Linked DNA regions of Homo sapiens. The protein of the gene in region 1 interacts with the protein of each later gene in a pairwise test. Each region holds a gene or a part of one and is shown on either strand. Other genes may lie near its edges. The genes, in order: ZNF184, UBP1 and SOX6.

Region 1 (3,656 bases):
AGGCGGGTAGATCACTTGAGCCCAGGAGTTCAAGACCAGCCTGGGCAACATGGCGAAACCGTGTCTCCACTAAAAATACAAAAATTAGCCAGGCATGGTGGCGTGCACCTGTAGTTCCAGCTACTCGGGAGACTGAGGTGGGAGGATTACTCAAGCCTGGGAAGCAGAAGCTGCAGTGAGCCAAGATTACGCCACTGCACTACAGCCTGGGCAACAGAATGAGACTTTGTTTCAAAAAAAGAAAAAAAAAATCAGAAGCTATACATGTTACTAGGTAAGAATTAGGTGATAAAGAAACGAAGCCTGCAGTTATGGAATTCATTTTTGTTGAGTTTGCTTGGGAAAGAAAAGATAAACTGAATGGTGGCCATAAAGATTCATATTGTGGAGTAAATCTATTTGGAAATATAGGTTATGTATTTCTATTTAAAAGTACTGGGAATGGAGCCCGTAGATCCAAAATAAAAAATTGTAAGGACTGAAAAGTACGGTGATAATTATGAGATCATGGTCCTAAAGGAAGTAGAAAGAGATGTAATTCAGAGTCCAGTTCGAGAGGTGGATTTCATAGAAAGGTAGGAAGGACATCTCCTCAAAAAGGGGCATAACATAGAATATATATTGCAACAATTAGTGACATAACAAAGCATAAGAAAGTCCAGAAAACAGATGTTTTCCCATTTCTCCACAGGAAATACTTTAAAGGGAAGAAAGTACATCTACACTTCAGACATAAAATCCTCTCTTATCAGGCTGACAGTCGGAGTTAATGATATTCATCTGCTGGCATCCATGACTTACCTGCACAGGTACCTACTGGAATGCTTGGCTCCATGATCCATGGCTCTGTCCCTTGCTCTAACTGGGAAATCACATCAGGTTTAGAAACTTGGAGTCCTGTTCATTAGGGAAAAAAAGAAAGAAACCTGCAGTAAGGGGAAAGTACCATATCAGAATTCAATCACCACTTTGTCTTTAGAAGAAATGATATGTAGTAAAAACCTGATGGGAGTGGATAGCATATCAAGCTTTAGTGTTACCAGTTCCCAGACATGGTGGGAGTATAATTTGGGAACTGATCGGGGTTCAGGAAAATTATTATTTTGTCCCTCTGCTTGCTAGGATGGTAGAAACCTTTTCAAAAACTAGAAATTTAGAAATGGTTGGTTACTAAACTTAAAGGCAAACTCCCCTGAGCACAAGAGAGAACCCTCCTCCTGCACACCCCTTGATATTAACTCAGAGAAATTATCCTTACCTATAGAGACCAGGTGTGTATAATTTTCCAATGTCACATCCCTGAACAAATCTCTCTGGCCAGGGTCCAGCTGTTTCCATTCTTCCTGGGTAAAGTCCACTATCACATCCTTGAAAGTCACCGCTTCCTGAAATACCAAACATATTTCTGCTTAGCCATAAGCATTTACTTAGGAAAGGGGTAAAGTTAGCAATACTGACAGAAGTAAGGCAGTCTATAGGATGTCTGCAAAATAATCTTGACATTTTCTCCTTTATGAAATAAATGTAAAAACAGTGCCTCATCCATTGGGTTATTGTGAGAATTAAATAAAACATTCCATGTGAAATGCTTAATTTAACGTCTGGCATATAATAAGTGCTCAGTCAATATGGCCATTGTTGTTGTCCTTCATCGTCATCATTACCATCATCATCTCTGTGTTCCAAGGTCCGCTAAGTATTAATGGTTTAACTATTATCATCAATATTTTTTACTACCTACAATGTGCAAGAGCACCCAAAGGTTTTTTGAAAAAGAGAGGTGGAAAGACTTGCCCTAATACATTTCAAAAGATAAAGTAATTTAAAAATGGCCTAGTCTGGAATAAAACAAAATGAAATAAAATAGAAAATCCAGAAACAGATTCATATTTATAAGAGTTAAAAGGCATTAAGCAGCTTTCAAATTGGTTAAAAGTTAGTTAAATTAAAAGTAAGTTAAAAGTGAAATTAGTTAAGATGGATTAGTCACTAAATCATGCCATAACAAACGACTGTCTATGAAAAAAAAATTAAGGTGAGATCCTTACTTCACAACACACACAAAAATTCCTGCCAACCTAAAGATGAAATCGTAAAGAAAAAGTCAAAATAAAATAGAATAAAAAACAGGAAAATATTTGTATAAGCTTGAAATCTGGAAGGCAAAATTTACATGATGGAGAGAGAGATCGATAGATATAACCACATAACAATGTAAAACATCTATAAGACATCATAAACAAAAGGCAATTTAAAAAGCTTCTGCACAGTAAAAAAAAAAAAAAAAAAAAAAAAACAATCTACAGAGTTCAAGACAACCTGCAGAAGGGGCAAAAATATTTGCAAACTATTCATCTCACAAGGGACTAATATCCAGAATATACTCAAATCAACAGCAAAAAAATAAATAATACCATTAAAAAGTGGGTGAAGTATCTGAATAGGCATTTCTCAAAAGAAGACATATAAACACCCAAATATATGAAAAAATGCTCAATATCACTAAATGCAAATCAAAACCATAATAAGATATCATCTCACCCCAGTTAGTCAAAAAGACAAAAAAAAAAATAACAAATGCTGGCAAGGATACAACACTGGTGGGAATGTAAATTAGTACAACCATTATGGAAAACAGTTTGGCACTGTCTCAAAAAAACTAAATATGGAACTACCATATGATCCAGCAATCCCGCTAATGGGTATTTATCCAAAGTGAAGGAAATCAGTATACCAAAGAGACACATGCATCCCCATGTTTGCTATGGCTTTACTGACAACAGCTAAGATATAGAATCAACCTAAATGTCCATCAACAGACGAATGGATAAAGAAAATGTGGTATATATACACAAGGGAATACCATTCAGCCATTTTAAAAAAGAATAAAATCTTGTCATTAGTGGTAACATGGATGTACCTGCAGGACATTATGTTAAGTGAAATATGCCAGGCACAGAAAGATAAATATCGCATGTTCTCATTCACATGTAGGAGCAAACAAAAACAAAACGAGCTCATAGAGAGTAGAATTGTGCTTACTAGAGGCTGGGAAGGGTAGAGGAGGGAAGGCTAGGGAAAGACTGGCTAACAGTTACAAAGTTACAGGTAGATGGAAGGAATAAGTTCCAGTGTCTATAGCACTATAGCGTGAATATGGTTAACAATAATTTAGTGTATAATTACAAGAAAGTAGAAGAGAGGATTCGGAATATTCACAACACAAAGAAGTGATAAATGTTCAAGGTGATGGATATGCTAATTATCCTGATTTTATCATTACACATTGTATTCACGTACCAAAATATCACTCTGTATCCCATGGATATGTACAATTATTACATGTCAACTAAAAATTAAGGGAAAAAAAAAAGATCAACTACCCACAACAATAGCAACAATAAAGGCCAACAACCCAAATAGGCAAGTCACCGAGGAAAATGTGAAACCATGAAAAGATGCTCCCCTCCCCTAAAAATATAGTTAAACAGTAAAATATCAGACTGGGTAACACTGCTAAAGTGCTCATGTGTCCTATGGTGGAAACAGAACCCAAATGCAATCTATCTGGGGGGCAATCTGACAAGATCTATCAAAACTTTAATGGATACACCATTTGATCTGGTCTTCCTACTTCTAGGAATTTATTATTCAGA
Region 2 (3,656 bases), on another chromosome or scaffold:
GGGCTCCCAGGGGTCTGACAAGCAAGTGAAAAGACTTAGGCATCAAATTATTCCAAGTAATTCTGAAATGCCAGTACACCAAAATAACCAGGCATAAAAGGACAAACAAGACTCTAGAAGCAAAAACCAACAGCAAAAACAACAGATGACATATATCCAGTTCCAGATTTTGTCTGCTGGTATTCAGATCTTTTCTGCCTCTACTGCAGAAGGTTAGAAGCCTGAAAACTACATATAGAAGAATTCTTGCTAGACAGTCTTGTCAGGCTCTCCAAAGGCAAACACTGGCGGAAAATTGAAAGAGCGGGAAAGGGAAAAGCCAGATGCAAAAACAGGCAACCACACGGAATGCAGCTGCGGAAAATTTCAGGGGATCAGCAGCCATGCCTCCAGCAACAAGCCCAAGAACAACCAGGTAACATGGCCTCCTCCTCCAACCCTTCCAGCTCCTTTGCAATCAAATACTTCACTAAATCCCTCTCTGCTTGAGACATCTCACTGATTTCTATTTTCCTGACTGGACACAGACCACCAGAGATTTCAGATGCTGGAATTATCAGATCCAAATTATAAAATCGTACTTACTCTATTTAAAGAAATAAAAGAAAAGCCTGAAAGTATCTGGAAGGAACAGGAAACTTTAAAGGACAGCAAAACTGAAAAAGAGCAAAAAGAACTTCTAGAACTGGAAAATAAAACTGTCCAAATTAAGAACTCAGGTTTAATAGCAGCTCAGACAGAAGTGAAGACTGAATTAGGAGACTGGAATGCTGGAATATAGGTAAAAAGAAGTTATTCAGAAAGCAGCACAGAGAGGAAAATGAAGAAGTTAAGAAGGGACCAAGTGAGAAGATTTTGCATTAAATTCAAGTCTCAGCAAAGAACGGAATAGGGGCAAAAACTGAAGACAGGAAGGCTGAGCAAATTCTAGAACTGGTGAAATATACCAATTCATGGATTCAAGAAGCCCAAATGACCAAACCAGAATAAATAAGAAATACACACCTAAATACACCATAGAAAAACTCACAAGCCAGTACAGCATATGAAAGTTCCGCCGGGTGCAGTGGCTCACACCTGTAATCCCAGCACTTTGGGAGACTGAGGCGGGCGGATCATTACATCAGGAGTTCAAGACCAGCCTATCCAATATGGTGAAACCCTGTCTCTACTAAAAAACTACAAAAAAATTATCTGGGCATGGTGGCACACGTCTGTAGTCCCAGCTACTCAGGAGGCTGAAGCAGGAGAATTGCTTGAATCTGGAAGGCAGAGGTTGCAGTAAGCCAAGATTGCGCCACTGCACTCCAGCCTGGGCGACAGAGTGAGACTCCGTCTCAAAGAAAAAAAAAAAAAACGAAAAAAGACAGCTCCATTTTCCCAGTAAATAACTAAGGGAATCAGTTGAAAATAGGCATGGCAAGGATGAGTTGTGAGGCTGAGGAGGTGTCATTAAGCTTTCTAGATGAGTAGGGGAGGAAATGGATGAGAATGTTATGGTATAAACTACAGAGCAGCAGGAAAGACATACTTGACAGCCAAGGTCATGAACCAACCACTATTAACAAAATCTGAATACTCTCATATCCATTAAATAAATTACATGTATAGTCAAACATTTACTCATCCAAAGAAAGTTAAAACTGGCTGGGTGCAGTGGCTCACACCTGTAATCTCAACACTTTGGGAGGCCGAGACAGGCGGACTGCTTGAGCCCAGAGACCAGCCTGGGTAACATGGTGAAACCCCGTCTCTACAAAAAATAGCAAAAAAATTAGCCAGGCATGGTGGCGCATACTCATAAACTCAGCTACTAGGGAGGCAGAGGTAGGAGAATTACCTGAGCCTAGGAAGTCGAGGCTGCAGTGAGCCATGATTGCACCACTGCACTTCAGCCTGGGTAACACAGTGTGACCCTCTTCTGGCTAAGTTCTCTGTTTTGGCAAAGTTTTTTAATTTAAAAAAATTTTTTGGTTAAAACACAATGGTTTGTAATTGTTATTCTAAATAAATTTTTTAATGTTTTCAAATTTCTTGATACTTTCACATTATGAAGTTACTACAACATATACAGCATCCTATTTATATTTAGATAAATTGAGACAAAGTAGTAACTAAACAAATACAAGCAACTGTGGTCCTACTCTACTCAAAATCACTGCTAAAAATAAGAGATCCTTTCAAGGCTAAATAGCATTCACAAGTGTGTCTCATCTTTGCATTCCCCACCCACACCAAAAAATTACATGTTTCTAAAACAGTTTTAACCACTACACATCAGAAGTGTCAAAATCATAAAAGAAGGAAAAACTAAAAATTGTTACAGGACACAAAAACTAAATGCAATACAGAATCCTGGATTGGAATCTGAAAGGACAAAAGGGAGACAACTGTGAATTCCAAATAAATTTTGTAATTTAGATAACAGTATTGCACCAAGTCTAATTTCTTGATTTTGACAATAGTACTCTGGTTGTATAAGTAGGAGAAGCTGGGTGAAGGGTACATGTGAACTCTCCATACTACTTTTGTAACTTGAAAAATTTCAAAATGAAGAGTTTTAAGTTAAAAGTTCAACTATGAATACATGAATGAGTAATAACTAGTTTTGTCATAGTTCATATCAAGGCAACAATTTCACAATGTCCAAAAAACTCAGAGTTTTTTGTTTTTTTTTTGAGACGGAGTCTCACTCTGTCGCCCAGGCTGGAATGCAGTGGCGCGATCTCAGCTCACTGCAACCTCCACCTCCCGGGATCAAACGATTCTCCTGCCTCAGCCTCCTGAGTAGCTGGGATTACAGGTACATGCCACCATGCCTGGCTGATTTTTGTATTCTTAGTAGAGACGGGGTTTCACCAGGCTGGCCAGGCTGGTCACGAACTCCTGACCTCAAGAGATCCACCCACCTCAGTCTCCCAAATTGCTGGGATTACAGGTGTGAGCCACCGCGCACCCAGCCTTTAAAAAAAAAAAAAAAAAAAAAAAAGACTACCATAGGCCGGGCACCGTGGGAGTCCGAGGCGGGCAGATCACGAAGTCAGGAGCTCGAGACCAGCCTGACCAACAAGGTGAAACCCCACCTCTACTAAAAATACAAAAATCAGCTGGGCGTGGTGGCATGCACCTGTAATCCCAGCTACTCAGGAGGCTGAGGCAGGAGAATCACTTGAACCTGGGAGGTGGAGGTTGCGGTGAGCTGAGACAGTGCCACTGCACTCCAGCCTGGGTAACAGAACAAGACTCCACATCTCAAAAAAAAAAGACTCTACCACCAAAGGCTGACAATTTCATATTCATCTATTAGATCTGTCCCAAAACAAGCAAAGTAAATAATACAGAGCCTCCTTTCAATTCAGTCATGAAGCTGGGCACCATGTGGCCCACCTGTGGGTCCAGCTACTTGGGAGTTTGTGGCAGGAGAATCCCTTGAGCCCAGGAATTAGAGCCTGTAGTGTGCAGTGATCAAGTCTGCAAATAGCCACTGCACTCCAGCCTGGGCAACAAAGCAAGACCCTGTCTCTAAAAATAATAATAATAATAGTATCAGTCATAGAACCTACAGCTAAGAAAAAAAAAGAAAAAAGCATCAGATGGTATTTCCAGCCAAAGCAAACGTTTAAATGTGTACTGGCAAACCAACAAATGCCACTATG
Region 3 (3,656 bases), on another chromosome or scaffold:
TAGTCCAATCTTCCACAGTAGGCAGAATGATCCTTTTATATGTAAATCAGATCATGTCAATGTCCTGGACAAAATCAGTCTAGGGATTCCCATCACACTCAGAATAAAATGAAAAGCCTTTCCAGGGTGTACCAGGTAATAATAAGCTCTGCCCAGCCTATCACTTTTACTTTATGATCCCCGGCTGTGTCGTCTCTTGTGCCATTCCTGCCACACTGGCCTCCTTGGTGCTGGTCTAATCCTCCAAGGGCCTGCATGTTCATCATTCCTAGTGCCTAGAATGCCCCTGCTCCTGCCTTTCATATGGCCTGGACTGTTGCTTCATTCAGATGTCAATGTCACTTCCTCAGAGAGTCCTTACCACTTCATCTAACATGCCAGCCCTATAACACCCTATTCCTTTAACTTGCTTCTATTTTTTCTCACGGCATTTATTGACTTCCTGCCATTACATTTTCTATTTAATTGTTTATTTCTTCATTGTCTGTGTTCTCCTATTAGAATATAAGCTCTAGGAAAGCAGGTGTCTTTGTCAGATTTGCTCACTGCTGTATCTCCAGCGCCTAGAACAGAGTCCATCATAGAATAAACAATAAATAATTTGCTGGATCAAAAACCAAATGAATGCAATTTGCAAATTGCTTTGTTTTGCTTCATTTTTTTGTCCTGGTTGACAGGAAGTTTAGTATTACATTTAATGGTGAGTCATGGTAACATATTAGTCTTCATTGTAAACACATATGTGTCTTCCTTTTTTAATATTCTGGTACTCTACTTTTATTCTAATAACATCATACATCTCCTTTATTTTAAGATACATCTATTTCAGAATGTGACAGAAAAACACCAATAGGCAGGTAGGTTGGGAGGCAACTTACACTGGGTGGGAAAGGGCGTATTTGTTAATCAACAATAATGCTTACAGATGCTACATGACAGATTTCAGTAAAGTACAAGACAGCCCTCAAGCTGGAAGCCCAAATCTATGGCTGCAGGTTGATACCTGGGAGCCTGGAAAGAACCAGATGAGAGTGAGCCAATAAGTCTAGCAGATCCAGTGACACAAGGAAGCAGTTTTACCTTTTCATTCCTGCAGCTGTTCAGCCCCATATTATTTATGGAGGACAGTTTCCCGTCAACACCATGTGGCTGTTGCTGCTGTTGCTCCCGCTGGATCTGCTCTCGCATCTTCCGCGCCTCCTGAATGGCTTTCATCACTGTATCCTGATCCCCAAAAAGGGCAGGGGAGTTGAGACTAGATAGGATATCTGCATACACAGGATGCATTATTAGATGCTTGTGAGGTCAGACTCCTAAAAAGTACTACTACTATCCCCTCCCCTGTAGAAAGCTGCATTCTCTGAACAAGGAAGGGGTGCACATTTGCTATTTTTTAAACTATACGCTAATATACATAGAACACAGAGCCAGGGCAACCAAGCTGTGCTGGGTTCTTTTAGCCCTTGGAGAAAACCCCAGCACTCCAGCCTACCTGGATTCTGTCTACTCACCTCCTCACAGACTACAGTTCCTAGACTCCAATTGTATACATATTGGGGGAAGGTATTTGCTCTGCCTGTATGTACAACTGGTGCACAATGTTGCCTCTTCTGTGGGGAAATTATGGGGAGGAAGGGGTTGAGGAGTGGGCAGGAGGCAGAGATGTTTGTCCAGGCTACCCATTATAGTTGCTGTGATAATACAACACAGTCATTTCTGGCCCGCAGAAAAAATAAAAAAATCTGTGAGGCCACATGTGTACTTTAGTGATATCTGTATCTGTGTGTTCATATGTCCACTGCAGGAAAGAGGGGGCGGAAGGAATTCACCGTACTCTCCAGTACCCCAGTTGCTGGCTGGTTAATGAAGCATTCTTCTCATCAAGCTGCCTCAGTTATTTACCAAGAGAATGACAACCCATTCCCCACCCCCAGCTCGAACACCCACTGTGATCAGCTCCCTCACTTCATGACAATGAGGCGATATGTGTGGGACTGGTTTTCGCATAACTACAAAGCTTCAAAAAAAAAGTGAGAATAAATATTTACTTCCAGTGTATTTCAAGCAACACAGAAGGAAAATCTTCAATATTAAACTGACTTATTTCCAACGATATCTTGCATTTTACTGTGGGTAAAATGAATACTTTGAATAAGATTTTCCAATTTTAGACAAAAAGAGGGCAATTTTTTGATGATAGGTTTCATCTGCTGTGACAAATGTTAGTGTGATCCACTTGCTTGAGGGCTCGTATAATCATTTCATAGCGTGTGTGTGTGTGTGTGTGTGTGTGTGTGTGTGTATGTGTGTGTATACACCTCACATAGGCAGGACAGAAGAAATGAGTGTAGAATCAAGCTCATACTGGATGTCTGATGTGTACAATGCATGTGCATATGCATTTGAGTTTGGAAAAAATTCCCAAGCTATACATGGAATTTTTTTTTTAAGTTAGTCACTTTTTGGTCCCACAGCTTTTATTTTGGAGCTTTTCTGGTAAAAAGGACATCTCTATCCAATATCACCTGGACGAGAGTGCTGTTCAAACACAGGTGCTATTACTTCAGCCCATTTCTAGCTCATGATCTAAGAAATATGCTCTGCTGAGTAGAGTTCCATAAAAGCAGGGCCTGTGACTCAGTCATCTCTGTCCCTCATGATACTCAGGACAGCAAACAAATGCTTTCCAAACAATTTCAGAGTGAATTCTAGGAGGGCTATTTCAAGGTCAACTCTATAATTTATCTCCTTGTTGGCTTTCTTCCCTCATCTCACAACTTCCAAAAATCCGGCCAAGGGGCATTCATATTCACATGCTGGAAATGATTTAATTCTATCTTCTATATGGATATCACTAACTTGGCATGAAAACTTTCAGGTCCCAAAAAGACATCCTTACTCAAAATGAGAATATGCTCCTGTAGAGATCCAATATTCCAAAATTCATTGAGGAAGATTAACATCTCACTATCAGAAGATTCACTTAGACTCAGCACAATTTAGCAAATATTCTAACTGTGAGTTTACAAAAAGAACACTTGAGTAACATGTGAGAGGACCTAGATTCTAGTCCTGTTTCTGCTAATTAACAGCTGCAGGAGTGTGGGCAACTCATTCTACCTGTAAAAACCACAATGTATGTATTTGTACAATAAGCATAATAATATACTATCTAACTCATAAGATTATTGTGAAACATCAAATCAGATAAAGTAGGCAAGAATGTTTTTTAAGCTGTTAATGGCTATTCTTATACATTATTTTATCTATTGAAATAAGCATTTTAGACTTCAGGACTCAATAATACAAGGAAGGTAATCTGAAGAAATGCTAGGTCTTGTCCCTTTAATCTTTAAATCTGTGTCTGTTTGGAAATTAAGTCTCTTAATTTCCAAAGAGTATAACAAATTAAGAGACTTAATTTCCAAACAAAGAGTATAGTAACAATAATGTTAATGCTTATTCGGCACTGTCTTACTGACAACTGCTTTCACATTTATTGTTTCATCCCACTTATATATGTACATGTATTGATAATCATTCATTCTAGTCATTTTAAATTGAATGCCTTCTAGGTTCTAAACTGCACTAGGCATTTAATATGCATTTTTCTGTTTTAATCCTCATAATAACCTATGAGCTAGTAATACTAGGAA

The links.
Region 2: the proteins of ZNF184 (region 1) and UBP1 interact in a two-hybrid assay, tested with the Homo sapiens proteins (one large-scale study listed by BioGRID and IntAct).
Region 3: the proteins of ZNF184 (region 1) and SOX6 interact in a two-hybrid assay, tested with the Homo sapiens proteins (one large-scale study listed by BioGRID and IntAct).

Annotation. Positions count from the first base shown.
Region 1 is NC_000006.12:27,456,025-27,459,680, forward strand, and holds part of ZNF184 (zinc finger protein 184), read right to left. Parts: intron 1,386-3,656; coding exon 1,259-1,385; intron 898-1,258; coding exon 802-897; intron 1-801. UniProt on the Homo sapiens protein: May be involved in transcriptional regulation.
Region 2 is NC_000003.12:33,430,401-33,434,056, forward strand, and holds part of UBP1 (upstream-binding protein 1), read right to left. Parts: intron 1-3,656. UniProt on the Homo sapiens protein: Functions as a transcriptional activator in a promoter context-dependent manner. Modulates the placental expression of CYP11A1. Involved in regulation of the alpha-globin gene in erythroid cells.
Region 3 is NC_000011.10:16,045,434-16,049,089, forward strand, and holds part of SOX6 (transcription factor SOX-6), read right to left. Parts: intron 1,890-3,656; exon of another isoform or gene 1,805-1,889; intron 1,269-1,804; coding exon 1,081-1,268; intron 858-1,080; exon of another isoform or gene 815-857; intron 1-814. UniProt on the Homo sapiens protein: Transcription factor that plays a key role in several developmental processes, including neurogenesis, chondrocytes differentiation and cartilage formation.